Regions from separate parts of the Homo sapiens genome. Here region 2 is linked to region 1. A link means that fine-mapping ties the variant in region 1 to the expression of a gene that starts in the linked region. Tissue or cell type: whole blood. Region 1 holds a variant in brackets; the other region holds the start of a gene. All regions are shown on one strand. Distances are between the middles of the regions.

Evidence for each region. PIP is the estimated chance that this variant, and not a neighbour inherited with it, causes the effect.
Region 2: EHD3 starts here. The variant in region 1 is fine-mapped to the expression of EHD3 in whole blood (INTERVAL, PIP above 0.99).

The regions. Positions count from the first base shown.
Region 1 is chr2:31,315,258-31,323,366 of GRCh38, reverse strand. No RefSeq gene overlaps it. Among named protein-coding and RNA genes, the nearest start is that of EHD3, 85 kb to the right of the region's middle. RefSeq lists a silencer at 4,512-4,581. The variant G/T (reference allele first, on the strand shown) is at 3,256.
Region 2 is chr2:31,230,183-31,238,291 of GRCh38, reverse strand. It overlaps EHD3 (EH domain containing 3), which reads right to left and starts at 4,140. Exons shown (of 6, transcript NM_014600.3): 1 at 3,444-4,140. The coding sequence starts at 3,670. It also overlaps a transcript of CAPN14 not described here.

The sequences.
Region 1 (8,109 bases):
GCCAGAACAAGTCATGTAGCTCTACCAAGTGCCAGTGCATGGGGAATTTTGGTAGTGCTTCGTATGTGATGATCGACACTATTTCCTTTTCCATTTATTGTATTTTATCATTGTGTTCTACTCCTTCTTTCATCTCTTTAAAACAAGTAAAATGCTTAGAACAATGCTTACCATGTAGTAAGAACTTCACAGAAGTGTTTTCTAACATTTTAAGTACAATTTATTTTTAACAGATTTTACAAGTTCTCATAGTCTAATTCTTTCCTTCAATGTGGAATATTTATTCACATAGATCATTTTTTTTTCATTATAAGCTTATTCTCAATGAGTGTTCCGTTTCCTGTGGTGAACTTGTGCTCTGTGGGTTGGGGAACGATTCCCTATAGAGCACATGTGTCTTCTGTGCTTTTATTGCCTTTTTATCAGTTCAAAGGTGAGCTTCTACCATGTGTGCTGGGTAAATATAGACCCCACACCTGGAATTTTGATTTTTCATATAAACTTTTTGTTTTCTTTTCTTCCCAAGAACTCTGAGTAGATACAATGCTTTCTTGCTGCTTCCACAGGCTAATGAATAGTTTTTTCTCTCCCCTCTTCATGGGTACTCTACATAGGGTGCTTTCCAACACTACAACCGATTCTCTGATTCTCTGGACACCAGAGTGTCCAACAGTTCAGATCAATTCTGACACTAACTACCTGGAGTTATCACAGACCTCACAGCCTAATGGCTCAGTCTCATAAGACTGCCCCTGCTTCAGTGCCAGGCCTCCTGTACTTCTGGCCAACTGGCTATAAATAGGGGTTCCCATGCCTCTCTCCTCATGTTTGATAGTTTGCCAGGACAGCTCACAGAACTCAGGAATGCACTTTACTTACATTGACCAGCTTATTATAAAGGATGCAAATGAGCAACCAGATGAGTTCCAGGCATATAGGGAACATAGGAAAAGGTCTGAAGGGTCCTAAGTGCAGGAGCTTCTGTTCTATGGAGTTGAGGTGCCCCCATCTCCTGGCACATGGATGTGTTCAACCCGGAAGCTCCCTGAACCCCATCGTTTAGAGGTTTTTTATGGAGGTTGGATCACATAGGCACACTCTATTATTAACTCAATCTCCAGCCCCTCTTCCCTCCTGGGGAGGATGGGGTGGTGTGGGAGGGTAGAGTGATGCTAAAAATTCTAGGCTTCGTATCAAGGCTTGGTCCTTTTGGTAACCAGTCGCCATTCTGAAGCTGTCTAGAAGCCCACCAAAAGTAACCTCATTGGAACAAAAGATACTCCTATCACCTAGCAAGTTCCAAGCAATTTAGGAATTCTCTATCAGGAACCAGGGATGAAGACCAAATAGAAGTTTCTTATTATGCCATAGGTACTATTTGGTATAGAAGTTCAGCTTTCTACCTCCATCAGCCTGAGAACATCTCATCTTCACCTGTGGATGTTAAATCCCTAAGCCAAGCCATGAGGACCGATGTCCTGTTCCCAAGCCCACTGGACTGCTCAGCCATTGCTCTTGACAGTCTGACTTGGAGTTTTCTCTTCTCTGGAATCTGAGAGTTTCCTTTTCTTTATTTTGAGCTCAGCTGGATATTAAAAAATTATATTACAGTTTCTACAACATTTCTATCTATTTGAAGCAGCAGAGGAACATTCATTTCCTTAAACTTCCATGTTGCTAGAAGTTTTAAGAGGTTATATTTTAGAATCCTACTTGTAATCCTATTTATTTTTTGTGTTAATGTACATCTTAGGACCAACTGCCACAGCAGTCAGATTCCAAGCATCAAAAAGATTTAGATATCCTACTTTTGCACATTCTAGTTTTTCTTATGCTGTCAGTATCCATCACTGGCTACTTTTTTCTATATTTGCAAATATTTCCGGGGTCCATATTTTAATTCCTAATTGCCATAGAGATTCATTTTATTAAACAATAAACATCCATCTACTGGTAGGAAGACATCCTTCCAACAAAAATTTAGCTCTGACTACGTATGAAGCGTTCTGCAATGCCCTAAAAGGAAAATAAAGATGAATCAGCCTCAGATACTGCCCCAAGTAGCTCGCAGTCTATCTAGCAGGAGAAATACAACATGTGCACAAATAACCCTAAGACCAGGTGGACCACGGTGGTGGCTGAAGAGACCTGGGGAAGAGTGTTTGGAGAATTCAGAGACGGGAACGCTCACGTATATGGAGGGAGGAATTGGAGGAGGTTTCACAGAGGTGGCATTTGCATTGATCCTGAAGGATAGTGTATTGTTTTCTATCGCTGCCATAACAGATGACCACAAATTTAATGGATTAAAATCACACCTATTTTTATTATTCCACAGTTCTGTAGGTTAGAAGTGTGGGTACATGTGGCTCTACTCAGTCCTCTGCTTAGAGTTTCACGAGGTCAAAATCAAGGTTTTGGCAGGGCCGTGTTCCTTTTGGGAGTTTCTGGGGATGAATCTGCTTCTAAGCTCATTGTTGGCCGTTCCTTACAGTTGTAGGACTAAGGTCTTCACTTCCTTGCTGGCTGTTAGCTGGGGGCTGCCCACCTTCTCCTCATGCTTTCCACGTAGCCTTCAGCAATGGGGGTCAAGTCCCTCTCACGCTCCCAATCTTTCTGTTGAGTTCTGCCACTTCTCTTCTGACTCCAGCGGGAGAAAGTTCTGTGCTTTTAAGGGCTCATGTGATTAGATTGGGTGCACCTGGATGATCTGGGCTACTCTGGCTTTTTTTTTTTTTTTTTTTTTTGACAGAGTCTTGCTCTGCCACCCAGGCTGGAGTGCAGTGACACAATCTTGGCTCACTGCAACCTCCGCCTCCTGGGTGCAAGCAATTCTCCTGCCTCAGCCTCCCTGTAGCTGGGATTATAGGCATGCACCATCACACCTGGCTAATTTTTGTATTTTCAGTAGAGACAGGATTTTGCCATGTTGTCCAGGCTGGTCTCTAACTCCTGACCTCAAGTGATCCACCTGCCTCGGCCTCCCAAAGTGCTAGGATTACAGGCGTGAGCCACCGTACCCAGCTGTACTCTGGCTATTTTAAATTCTGTAACCTCAATTACATCTGCCAAGCCTCTTTTGCAATGCAACATGATATATTTACAAGATGCAGGGATTGGGGCATCTTTGAGGGGCCATTATCCTGCCTCAGTATGGATAGACTTTACATCTGCTGAGCCATGCCAGAGGGCTCTTCAGCAAGAGGGAGTGGGAAGAACAAAACCATAGAGGCAGTAAACCACATGGAAGGGGCA[G/T]TGAGAACAGCCAGCCTTGCCTGGGGTGCTAACCAGTTAGTTTCCTCCAAATGATGAGATATGTGTGCAAGCTCTTGCACAGAGTAAGACCTTCTGAACCAGAGAAAGCCAGCCACAGATTCCTGTCCTAGGGCATGTAGGCGTTCCCCGCTGCTCATCTCAGTTCTGTCAGGGAGATTGCTGTTGTAGCGTTTCTACACTTCCTGTGTACACCCTGTTCCTCCAGATGTAACAATGTAGAGCCAAGCACCTTCAACAAATAAAATTTATTTACTATTACATTTGTTGCACAAAGTACTGGCAAATCAGAAGAAGAATATAATAGTTGCCCATAATCCGGACACTCAGAACAACTGTTAACACTGGTGTTTTATGAGGTGCCTTTAACAGGCAGCTTTCCGTGTCTATTAATGTTCTTTCTCAATGGTATTTTCTATTGTATGGATGGCACTGTAGTTTATTTAATGGACATTTGGCTTACTCCCAAGTGGTTTTGCTCTCATAAACATGGCTGAGATAGCATAACAAGAGTTGTTTTGACAGTCATGTTAAACAGGATGTCAGCAGGCCCTCAGTGGGAATGCGAAGGGGAACTTGGGGTGGTACAGCTGTGTGAGGGTGAGTGGCTCCTTTCCTAGTTTCTTCATCCTGGCCTCTTAGCTAAACCCCTGTGTACTGCTTTGTTGTTAACTTGGTCCAGCTGCACCCGAGAGCTCATTGAATGGTTCACTTAAGAGCTATGCATTTCACTATGTGTAAATAATCCTCAATATTTTTTAAAATTAAGTATGTCCTAGTTCCAAACCAGCAAGATCTTGCTGTTTTTGTGCACATTCACATAAATGGGATTGGATGTAATAAAAACCAAAAAAAAAAAAAAAAAGGCACAGAGAGGAGCTGGCTGGGCGCTGGCCTCCAGCATGGGACGGTAAAGGGAGTAGTTACTGGGAACAGGCTCAGTTTGGTGAGGGGTGGCCACCACACTGCTTTGGCCCTCAGCCGCCTCATTTGCATGAAGCCCCACCTTGCTGGCTTGTGCTGTGGTGGGGGGTTAAGACCCCGTATATAAAAGTCCAGCATGGCACCTGAGATGAGACAGGGAGTCAACATAGAGGAGCCATTCTTGAACCTCCAGGAACTTTTCCGGGGAGGTGCAGTCGGCGCTGGGCTGCTGTGCTCTGTGGTTTCCCCTGTGGGTTGGTGGTGAGTCAAGGGCCCCCTGGGAAGAGCAGAAAGAAGACAGGCGCTGGGGATGTTGCTAACTGCTTATTTCTGAGGGTCAGAAAAACCTCAACTCAGTACAGCTGGGCTGTGCCCTTCAAGGGTGGAGCCTGAGGGTGGAGTTAAGTAGAGAGAACTCTGGAAGGGGGTGAGGCAGGGGCCAGAGGAACTGGCAATTCTGCCTGAAGGAGGTGGGCCTAGGGTGCCAGGGGAAGATATCTTTTTCTTCCCAAAGCAAAAAAAAAAAGGAAAAATGACAAGAGCTCTGCTCAGAGCCTGGCTCAGGGCTGCTTAAATGTCTCTGCTGGCACCACTATCCTAGCCACTGCCTTTACAATTTCATGTGGGAAATGAACACGCTTACTATGATGAAATATCAATCTCATGCAGATTTTGAAGGGATTACGTATACACACATCTGCTTTGGCTTTGAGGTTATTTATATTTGAACAGCAAGCTGCGTGCCTTAAGTTCTAGTTATTAGGAATGTGTAGGCCATGGTTTATACTGATGCCAACCTGCTTGCCTACATACTGTAGGGTGAACCATATCACCCATAGAAAACAAATTGATAGTGATGAAACAAATATAAATTATCATTAAAGACCAAAAAGACCAGCAATTTTAAATCACGACCCATTCAAGACAACAGTGATGGTCCTTTGATTACACTGCGTCCTTCTAAATGACTACCAATGGGGACTTCCAGTGACTTTTGTGGACACTTACCCCATGGAAGTCTGCAGGATGGCTTGCTGCTGCAGGTAACTCTGGGCAGAAGAGTGGGTTGGCACCCCCTTTAAGCCTGACAAAATTCCTCATGTGAGTTTATGAGTTCCAAATAATAGTAATAAACTCAATAACTCACTAGGTAGGTGTTTGGTAAATGATCTTTTGATGTAAAAATGAAATTGTATAAACATTAAAGGAGGATCAGTGAGTGGCTTATCGGAACCATCCTCCCAGTATTCCCCGGGGTTAAATGTTATACCCTGAGAAGGCTTGACAAGAGCTCTGAATCATCTGAGCTGGTTATTGAAAATGCAGGTTCAGGGCCCCCCTTGCAGAGATTCTGGTTAAATAAATCTAGAGTGAGACCCAAGAATCTGAATTTTAAACAAGCCCTGGAGGTGATTCTGATGCATGTGGTCTGCAGATACAAATTGATGGAAAATGCCCAAAGAGAATGGGGCCCCTCTCTGCCAGGTGTTAAGAGCACCTGCTATTCTGAGCAAATGCTATTCTGAGAGCATTTGCAGGCTGGAGTCTGCCTTTATGAGCTCTGGGTGGGAAGGTAGTTCAGGCTGGTTTATACAGCCACATACAGGGAAGACAGTGAAGAATGCCCAAACATAGGGGGTGCTCTATGCTGGAGAAATGTTTAGTTTAATCCTTGAGTTGCGACAGGTTGGCAGGAACTAAAGATCTCTTAGAGAGGGATGGGCCTGAGGCATGAGAGACGCAGAGGCCAGGTCCAGAGATGCAGCGTGGAAGGGAGGGGACCATGGAGAAGGATAGAAGGACATAGCAGAGGGGATAAAGAGAAAAAAACGCATGTACACATGACACCTATTATAATTATATGTTGAGGGCTTTGCCTGTGTCAGCCCATTCACTCCTCAGCACAGCAGTCTAAGATGGCAATAACATTCGTTTTTTACATGAGGAGACAGTGGCTCCCAAAGGTTAGAATAAGAATGGAAGTCAGAGTTTTATTTCAGGACCATGTGGTTCCTAAGCTCTCACTCTTGATTTTGTGTTTCTTTAGGCAAGTAAATGATGTTTAGCCACTATACCCATCTATATACGTATTCATTATTTCATTCATTCACTCAACATGAATGAGCTCCTGCTAAGTGCCAGGCACTGAGACAGGGGCTGAGGATTGACAGGTGGACAAAAGAGACACTGCCTTAGATCTTAATAGGAAACATGAATATTAAACAGTCAGACACGTAACTATAATTTTGCAAAGAGTTGGAAGAACTGAAAAGGAAAATTGCAGGTTCTGTGAGAAATAAAGCGGGGACCCTTAATTTAGAGTGGAGGGTCAGAAAAGGCCTCTATGGAATGTTGGACTTGAAGGATGGGTAGGAATTAGCTAAGCTCAAGTGTGGGGAAAAATGTCCCAGAACTGTGCTGTCCAAAAGAACTGTTGTGCTGTCCAATATGGTAACCATCAGCCACATGTGACTAGCAAGCACTTAAAACGTGTCTAGTGTGACTGAGAAATAAATCTTAAGTTTTGTTTAATTTTAATTAATGAAAAAATACATATTTCTTAAAAACCACATGTGGCTAGTGGCATCTGTATTGGACAGCACAGCTCTAGAACAAATGGGAAGTTTAAGCAAAGGACCTGAACTGAAAAAGGGTTTGATGGCTTCCAGAAGCCTAATTTGTGGTGGGTACAGTGGGGAGACTGAGACAGCATGAGGCCTGAAGGGAACAGGGCTCAGAGTGTGCAGACACTTGAAGGAACAGGGCTCAGACTGTGCAGACACTCAAGGGAGCAGGGCTCAGAGCATGCAGGCACTTGCAGGCCTCATGAGGGGTTTTCAATTTTACTGCAGTGGGGAAGTTGTTGAAGGATTTTGAGGAGAAGAGTAACTTGGTCAATTTTTGTTTTAAGATCACTTTTCACTGTAGCAAACGGATCAGAGGGAGCTAAAGTTAGAGAAAGGAAACCAAGGAGTAAATATTGTCATTTCCTAAGAAAGAGATGTTGGTGGCTCAGCTTAAGGTGGATACTGTGGAAATGAAGAGACATGGGTGGATGTGGTATAATTTCTAGATAGAATGGATGGAACACACAGTTTTAAACATACAGAATCCAGTAGCCTAGGCCTGTGTTGTCTAATATGGTAGCCGTTAGCCCCTTGTGGCTCCTTAAATTTAAATTAATTAAAATTAAATGAAATAAGTCTTTCTGCACTGTACCATTCACATTTCAAGTGCTCAAAGGCAACACGTGACCAGTGGCTGCCATTATTGTACAGGGTAGCCTTTAGTGAACATTCCTGTCATTGTAGAAACCTCTACTGGGTAGTGCTAAAGTCACTTGGAGAAATGTTTAAAAATGGATCTAGAAGAGGTCATCAGGTCCAACACCCTCACCGTGGAGGTGACATGCTGGGGGACACTCAGCTGATTCCTGGGTGTTGCTGGAGTGGTGCCTAAACCAGGCTCTCGGGTGGCAACCTTTTCCACCCAAAGCATCAGAAGCATCATGGGCAGAATTGCCTGCTTCCCCAAGGGCTTTGTATCCTGAGAGAAAGGCCCTGCTCCAAGAGCACAGGGCAAAGCAGTTCTCACTCCTCCCCAGGCTTTTATCCAAGAGAGGGGAATGGGAGCAGAGGGGAAGGGCACATGGGTGGAGTAATGAGACCCACTTGTCAGAAGGCTAAACTAAAGCGTTACCAGCGGTGTTTGTCTAAGGAAAGGCTTCTGAAAGGCTCAGGCCTGATTTTGACTCAAACCATTTAATAATTCTATGGCAGCCTGAAAAAGAAAGGCTGAGATAGAAACAACAGAAATACAACCACCATTATTGTTTCCAGCTAACATGGCCTATCACTGGAGGCTCAGAGAACGTGTCTTTAGTTACTTCTGCAGAAAATAATGCATTGCTTT
Region 2 (8,109 bases), 85 kb after region 1:
GTTCAGGCCTGGCATGGAGACAAGAATCAAGGCAAGAAGCAGGGATGGGAGAAGGGAGAGGAGGAGGCCTTCTGAGACCTAGGCATGGACGCACTTATCCACCCCAGAGCAGCCTTACTCGCAATGGGGAAGGGATGCAGTGTCAACTCACCCTCTCGGAAAACAACTGCAAAATATGACTCTTAGTACAAAAATTTTAAAGTTAAAAAATATTTTAAACAAAACCCTGCCCAACCTTTGGCCTAGCAATTCCACTTCTGGGAATCTCAAAAAAACAAAAACAAAAACAAACAAAAAAAACACACACACACAATATAGGAAAAAATATTATACACAGAGATATTCAGAATTATTCTACAATAACAAAAAATTAGAAATAGCCTAAAACATCCAAGAGAAGTAGATTAAGTGAAGAATCGTATATACACACAATGGAATAGTATGCAGCTGTTAAAAACAATGCTATTCATTAGTTGAATGAATAATTGTATATACAAATAGTGAAATAGTATGCAGTTGTTAAAAATAATGCTGACAAATAACGCTTATAACATAGGAAATGTTCATGCTATAAGTAAGAAAAACTGGCCAGACGCAGTGGTTCACGTCTGTAATCCCCAGCACTTTGGGAGGCTGAGGTGGGTGGATCCCCTGAGGTCAGGAGTTCAAGACCAGTCTGCCTAACATGGCAAAACCCCATCTCTACTTAAAATACAAAAATTGGCCAGGCGTGTTGGCGGGTGCCCGTAACCCCAGCTACTTGGGAGGCTGAGGCAGGAGAACTGCTTGAACACAGGAGGCGGAGGTTGCACTGAGCCGAGATTGTGCCATTGTACTCCAGCCTGGGTGACACAGTGAGACTCCATCTCAAAAACAAAAACAAAAATAAACAAGCCAGCATACAAAATTATATGTATAGCATGATCTCAACTGTGCTATAAAATAGCTACAAATACTGGAAATATATTTATATATAAATTATATGCTTTATATATAAATATATTTTATATGTAAATTAAAATAGCTTCTCCTAAGTCATGGGATTATGGGTGACTTTTTTTCTTCTTTAAATTTATTCTTTTCTATATTTTCCAATTAAAAACAACTGTTTACTGGATTTTATGAGAAAGAAGAAAAGTACATGATTTGGTTCTGGAGGGTTCCCTGTGGTATGACCCCTCCTACAGCGCTGGCTGACACTCCCTCAAGGGGAGACAGCTTTTGACGCATGAGCTAAATTCAGTTGCTGACATGAGTGGGGAGAGGGAACTACTGCACATGGAGGATAAGAAAGAAGAGCGATCTGCCTCTCCCGGTCTTACTGTCTCCCTCAGATGAGGAATCATCTGTGGCAATTTGACTCTGCCACTTTCTTAGACCCAGTTAACAGCCAGTGATGACTTAGGCAAAGCCGGGAGAGTGTCTCAGACAAAAGGCGCTCAAACCTGTCTGCTGCTTGGGGATCCTCACCTCTCCCCATCTTCCCTCCCATTCTGCAAAATGTCTACTGGGAACCTCCTATAGCCGAGACCCTGGGCAAGGCCCCAGAGATGCTAAGGCATGGATGTTGTCTTGTCAATGATTGTACACCAGGAAGGAGAAGCTACAGATAATGTATGAAAGGTTATAAATACCATATGTGTAGAGAGCCAGGGAAGGCTGAGAGGGCAAGGGCCATCTGCAAATGGCCTGAACTTCCCCTGAGGCATGAATGGGCCAAGTGGAGGCCAGGGCTCACAAAGGAAACTCTGCAGGCAACCCAGGCAGCTCTGAAGTGCCTTTGGCAGCAATGGGTGCTTAATAAAACAAGAAGCATGGCTTAGATCAGGGGTTCCCACCCTAAAGTCCAAAGAAGGCCCTTGGACCCCCAACATTATATGCAAATTTGGGATGTACGTACATTTTTCTAAAGATAGAAAGTTAAGAAGCAATGGATTAGTTTAATCTCTAAGGCCTCTTGCAGTTCTATCAATATAAAACATACAAGAGCCAACAGGCCCATCACCTCCCAAACTCCTTCAGAAATCACTTGGCCTCTTAAAGCTGCTGAGCCCTAGGCTGTGCACTCCACAAGGACAAACTCAATGTGGTGTTGTGTTTAGACATGACCTATTAGCATGGTGCTACTTCCAGAAGGCTGGCGTTACAAGGTGGATGTTAGAGAAAATTAGTACCTAGAAAATTAGTAACTAGACTGTTAACTTTTCTGCACTCCTCACCAAACAAAGCACAGCATTTCACATGCTGTGGATGCTCAAACAGCCAAGGAATAGGAATAAGGGTACCCCTGCTTTCCAAACCCTCTGCAGGAGATGAGCACACTTGACTTTGGGGGGCCACCAAACTCCATTCTCAAGCTGTGGGAGCCTGAGTCTTAAGACAGAGGGCCACAGCATTCTCAACAATTTGGAATGGCTATAAAAGGGGCCAAGAAAATGGCTGGCCTTGAAGTTGGGAAGATTGAGGACTGGAGTGAAGCCTGTTCTCTAAAGATAAGAAGGGCCTCTGGTGGACTTCTCTGAATGCAGGGTGAACAAATTGACTTCTTGAGCCTCCCTCCAGCCCAAGGATTCTGTAATTGAAGGGAATGGATGACTCATTCTCAGAGTTACAGGCGTTTAGCCAAGCATCTCCTCACATGCATCTAGGACTTAACATCCCAGGTCTGCTGCCCACTCTTTAGATGGCTCTGCACAATTCATTTAACTTCTCTGCGCCTCGGTTATCTCACCTGCAAACTCAGCAACTGGATGAGACAATGCCAATATCCCTTCCATCTCTAAGCGTCTTTAATATTATTATTAAGCCATTAAGATCAAATAAGAGAAAGGGGAAAAAAAAAGCATTCTGCTTCTGGACTCAGCTTCTGTTGAGTCTCCAAGATATATACACAGGAGCTCTGCTTTAGAGAAGGAAATGATAAAAGGAGGACAAGTAGCATCCCCAGGCCACCTCCGTTCCCAGGCCCGCACCCATCAGAACTCAGCTGCAACTGTGAGGCCCCCATGTGAGTGCCAAGCCCCTTGAAAAACAAGGGAAGAGGTTTTGCCCGTGAATGATGTGTTGCTAAAAAGTGAAGACGTAAGACATCCCCACCAACATAAGGCGCTCCAGAGACCAGGAGCTCTTCCATTGTGCCTCCTGGGCCTCGGTTTCATCATCCATAAGATGGGGAGACTGGGAATGGCTTTACACTTGAATACTTCAGGTTGACCACCACAGCCAAGGGCCAAGTAGAGTGGACAGGTATTGGGTAGGATGGGAAGGGGGACCAGCAAAAATTGTGGGGTAAGATTTTGACGCCTGCACAAACACAGATCTCTTCAGAGCCCTCAACTGAAGGCTTCCCATTGGTCCCCTGTCTGGGATGGAGCACCAGGAGTGACCGGAGGGACTAGGCGCTGGGCTCCGGGGTGGGCTGCCAGGACCCTGGGCCGGCTCACCTGATGAAGGTGGTCTTCCCAGTGGAGTACTGGCCCACCAGCAGAACCATGGGCTTGTTGTCGAAGTCGGCATCCTCCAGGGCGGGCGAGTGGAACTCGTGGAAGCGGTAATGCTCTTCCAAGGGCAGCAGCTTGCTCTTGTAGAGTTTCTTGAGCCCCTCACTCACCGTCTGGAAAACCTCGGGGTCCTTCCTCCGGCGGTCGTCCGTACCCAGCCAGCTGAACATCGCGGCCGCCGCTCGCCCCCGGCACGCAGCCCCAGGGGAAGACTCCTCCTCAGGGGAAGATGTCCCGTAGGACCGGTCCGCCGGGCTCCGAGCCGCGCCGCCGCCTCACCCAAGCGCGGGGCTCAGCCGCACCATGGCCCGGGCACGCGGCTAGGAGGGCCGGGAGCGCACTCTCCCTGCTCCTGGGACCAAGCCCAGCCGCTGCTGCATCCAGCAGCCCAGGCCGGAGGGAGGATAAATAATCTGGGCTTGAGGAGGAGGGGTGAAATCTTGGCAATTAAAGTTGAACCTGCAAGGAAACTGCCAGATGCCGGGGTCCCAAGCCGGGGTCCCCGATCGGCCCCCAGCCCTCGCCTGCTCTGCCCTGCGTGCAGCAAGGGATGCTTCGGCTCCGCTCCTGCCGGACCGAGGCGGCTCAGGGGAGACGGCGACGCTGCCCAGCCCGCGGACAGCTCTGCATCCGCAGCAGCATCCTGCAGCCCCAGGCGGTGGTTTAAATGCCAGCTGGGCAGGAAGCCGGCGCGCAGAGGAAGTCCCCTAGTACTGGCAAGGCAGGGCCGGCCCCACGGTTGCGGCGACGGGAAGCCGCGCAGGGCGCCGCCATGTTTGTGGGCAGGCGCTCAGCTCTAGACCTGCGGCCGCGCGGGGAGAGGGATGCTGACCCAGTCCAGTGGGAGAGTGCCGGTGTCTCAGTCTCCGCCTCTGGGGCTTCGATTTGGGAACAGCGCCCTCTCAGGGACGGCTGCGAGGACAGAGTTGACCTATTCATCACACTCCCTGCTTTGAATCGCCTCTCCTTCAGTTGCTGAGGTCAATTCCCTAGGAAAACAGGTACTCTAGTATTGGGGGATTTTTTTTTTTTTTGGCATAGAAAGGGGATCCACTATCAGGTTACACAAAATAACCAAAACTGTCACTACCCAAACTTTTAGCTAGGCTTAGGGTGAAGTCAAAATCGTTCCCATTTACTTATTCATTCATTCCAGCAAAACAAAACAAGCCAAGAAGCAAAATCCCTGCAAGTATTGGGAATTTATTATGGGGCAGTTACAATTTTGGTGACTGTGGATACAGAGATGAGTGCTGAACAGACTCTCCCTTCCAGGAACTCCAGTGAAGGCAGGCTTTAAAGAGGAGGCATGAGCAGAGGGTCATGGGAATACAGGGAGGAGTCACTCCTTTTGTGTGGCTAATTTGAGGAAGGCTTCATGGAAAGCATGACTGTAAGCTGGATCCTAAATGATGAATTGACATCCATTGTTCTAGGAGCGTAAGGAGTATTTGCAAAGGCTTGAGGAACTTGGTGTGTCCAAGGCAGAGTAAACAGTTTGGCATAGCTGGAGTGTAGGGTTTAGGAAGGTGAAAGAGAGTGAGGGAGGCCAAGCATGAAAGGCTTTGCCAGAGATGGGGAACCAATAGCAATGCTATTACTAATCATTGTTACATTAACAAAATGCTCAGCATGTGCAGGGGCCTGGGCTAAGTTCTCAGTGAACATTGCTTTATTTAACCTTCATGGCAGATCATATTATCTCCAGCATCATACTAAGGAGAGTGAGTGGGAACACTGTCCAGGTGTAGGCAAAAGCAGTGCATCGTGTGTAGAGAATTTAAACCCAATAATAAACTTGCTGAAAGTTGATGTGCTTTGTATTGGCACCATTCTAAACAGTGTAGTGATAAAACACTCCTCCCTGCCCAGGCTAATGACTCCCACTACCCTCCCTTCCACAGATGAAGAAGGAGTAGGCTATGGACCAGGCAGGAACTGGAATGCCAAGAGCAGTGTTGGAGGGGCAAAAGAGGTTGGGGGTTGATATGGTTTTGCTTTGTGTCCCCGCATAAATCTCATCTCTAATTGTAATCCCCATAATCCCCATGCGTTTAGGGAGAGAGCTGGTGGGAGGAGATTGGATCATAGGGACAGTTTCATTCATGCTGTTCTCATGATAGTGAGTGAGTTCTCGTGAGAGCTGATGGTTTTATAAGGGGCTCTTCCCACTTGGTTCCTCATACTTCTCTCTCCTGCCGCCTTATGAAGGACGTGTTTGCTTCCCTTTATGCCATGACTGTAAGTTTCCTGAGGCCTCTCTAGGCATGCAGAACTGTGAGTTAATTAAACCTTTTTCCTTTATAAATTACCCAGTCTTAGGTATTTCTTCACAGCAGTGTGAAAACAGACGAATACAGAGGCCAAGAGACCATTTAGGAAACTATTCCAAAACTTAGGAGACAGCTGCAATGGGATTGGAGAAGAGGTCAGACTCAAAAGATTTTTTTCATGGAATAGAATTGTCAGATCTTGGTATGTGATAAAAAAAAGAGGACATAAGGGTGAGGCACAGTCTAGGATGATTTTGAATTTTCTACCATAGGGGATAAGATCATTGGAGAAGCTCTTCCACTAATTAGGGGAGGCAGAGAGAGAGCTGATTTAGCAGACAGAGATAATGTGTTCAATCTAAAACGTGTTGCGTTTGAAGTGCCTGCAGGAGCTTCAAGAGGAGTGTGGTGAAGCTGCAGGGATTTCAGGGGAGGGGGGATTATCAGAGGCCAGTGCTGAATAGAATCTCCTTAGTTACATCTCAGATCTCCCGACTCCCTCCTTGAACCCCAAAACTGATCATCTCTTGTTGAGAATTCACTCAGATTAATATTTCACCCTTGGTGTTTAGCTACTACCAACATACGAACCTAAGGAGTAATATTAAAGATATTTAACAACTCACAAGGCATGAGAATCAAACACCCGGAACAGACACTGGCCTTCCTAGTGGAGCAAGGCTTGCGGCCCCGTGCCACGCCTGGTGTTAATACAGTGGCGTCTGGACCTTGGAGAGATCTGAGCCTGTCCCCGGAGAGAGGTCAGTATGGCCAGCGTGACAGGAAAGAAATCAAGGGGCCCCATTATGGAAGTATTTCAAGAATTTTGTAATCAGTACGGCCATGCCATTGTCTACTGCTGAATGTCTGTTCCGAATATCTAATTTACCAAGTGCGTGTTGACACATCTACTCCCGTCTCAGTCTTGAGTAGTTGAAATCTATCTGTTTAAAAAAGGAACTAATGGAGCATTTCTATAGACTAGCAATAAAAGGTCATGAAAGATAATATTCAAAAAAGATACTGTGTTCAAAAGAACAAAAACTTACGGATAAATCTGACAAAAGATATGCAAGATCTTTATGTGAAAAATAATAAAACTTTATAGAAAGATGTTAAAGAAGTTCTAAGTAAATGGGAGAGACATGCCATGTTCCATTGTGGAAGGATTCCTTGTCACAAACATGTGAATTCTTTACAACATGATTGATAAATTCAATAATTGAGAGATATGATTGAAATCAAAATCTAAATAAGGTTTTCCATGGAAATTGACAAGGTGATTCTAAAATGTATAACTTATAGAGCAATAGTAAAAAAAAGCTTAGATATTCCAGGAGAAGAAAGAAGATAAGAAGAATAAGGAGGAGGAGAGGGAGAGGTGGAAGGGGAAGGAGGGCAGAAAAAGGAGAACAGAGAAGAGAAGAGGACAACAGTAACATAGCAATGGCAACAACTAAGCGAAGAGGACTTGCCCTAGTGGACATTGTTATGGAGTTACAGTGGTTAATATGGTTTTGGCACAGAGACCAACAGAATAACAACACAGTAAATAGCCAGGAAATTTGGAAGCCTGACATATACAGAAGTTGCAATAGAGATTGCATATATATCACCACAAAGTCAGGAAGAGTTCTTTAAACAAGACGTCAGAAGCACAAACTGAAAAATGAAAAAAACTAAGTTTAGCACTAGCAAAATTTAAAACTTTCGTTCAACTAAAAATACAAAAGTGAGTGAAAAGATATTTCCTATACACAAAAACCCATGAAAGCACATCCAGAATATAGAACTAATGGCTGTGCATCGATAACAAAGACAAACATTCCAATAGAAAAAAACTTGGCAAGAGCTACAAAAATGTCTTTTACAAGAGGCTACATGAATGCCCTATAAACGCAAGAAAACATGTTGCATCTCATTAGTAATTAGAGAAATGCCAAACCACACTAACACTCCATACCCACCAAAATGGCAAGAATAAAAAGTTGGATGGTAGGGTTGGTGAGGATGTAGAGCAATGGGAGCTCTCATAAAATGCTGATGGGCGTGCAGGCTGGCACAAATACTTTGGGAAACAGTTTGGCATTGCTTAGTGAAGCTGAAGATGTGCATGTCCTATGACCTATCTCCTTCCATTCTATTTCAAGGCGTGATCTAGAGAAACTCTTGCACATGTGCATAGGGAGATAAGTCTTAAGAATGTTGATGGCAACATTATTTGTAGCAGCAAAAATTTATAAACAACTAAATGTCCTTCACCGAGTAAATGGATAAATGTGCCACATTCATATAAAATATATACCACACTGGGGTCTAGTTGAGGGTGGAGGGTG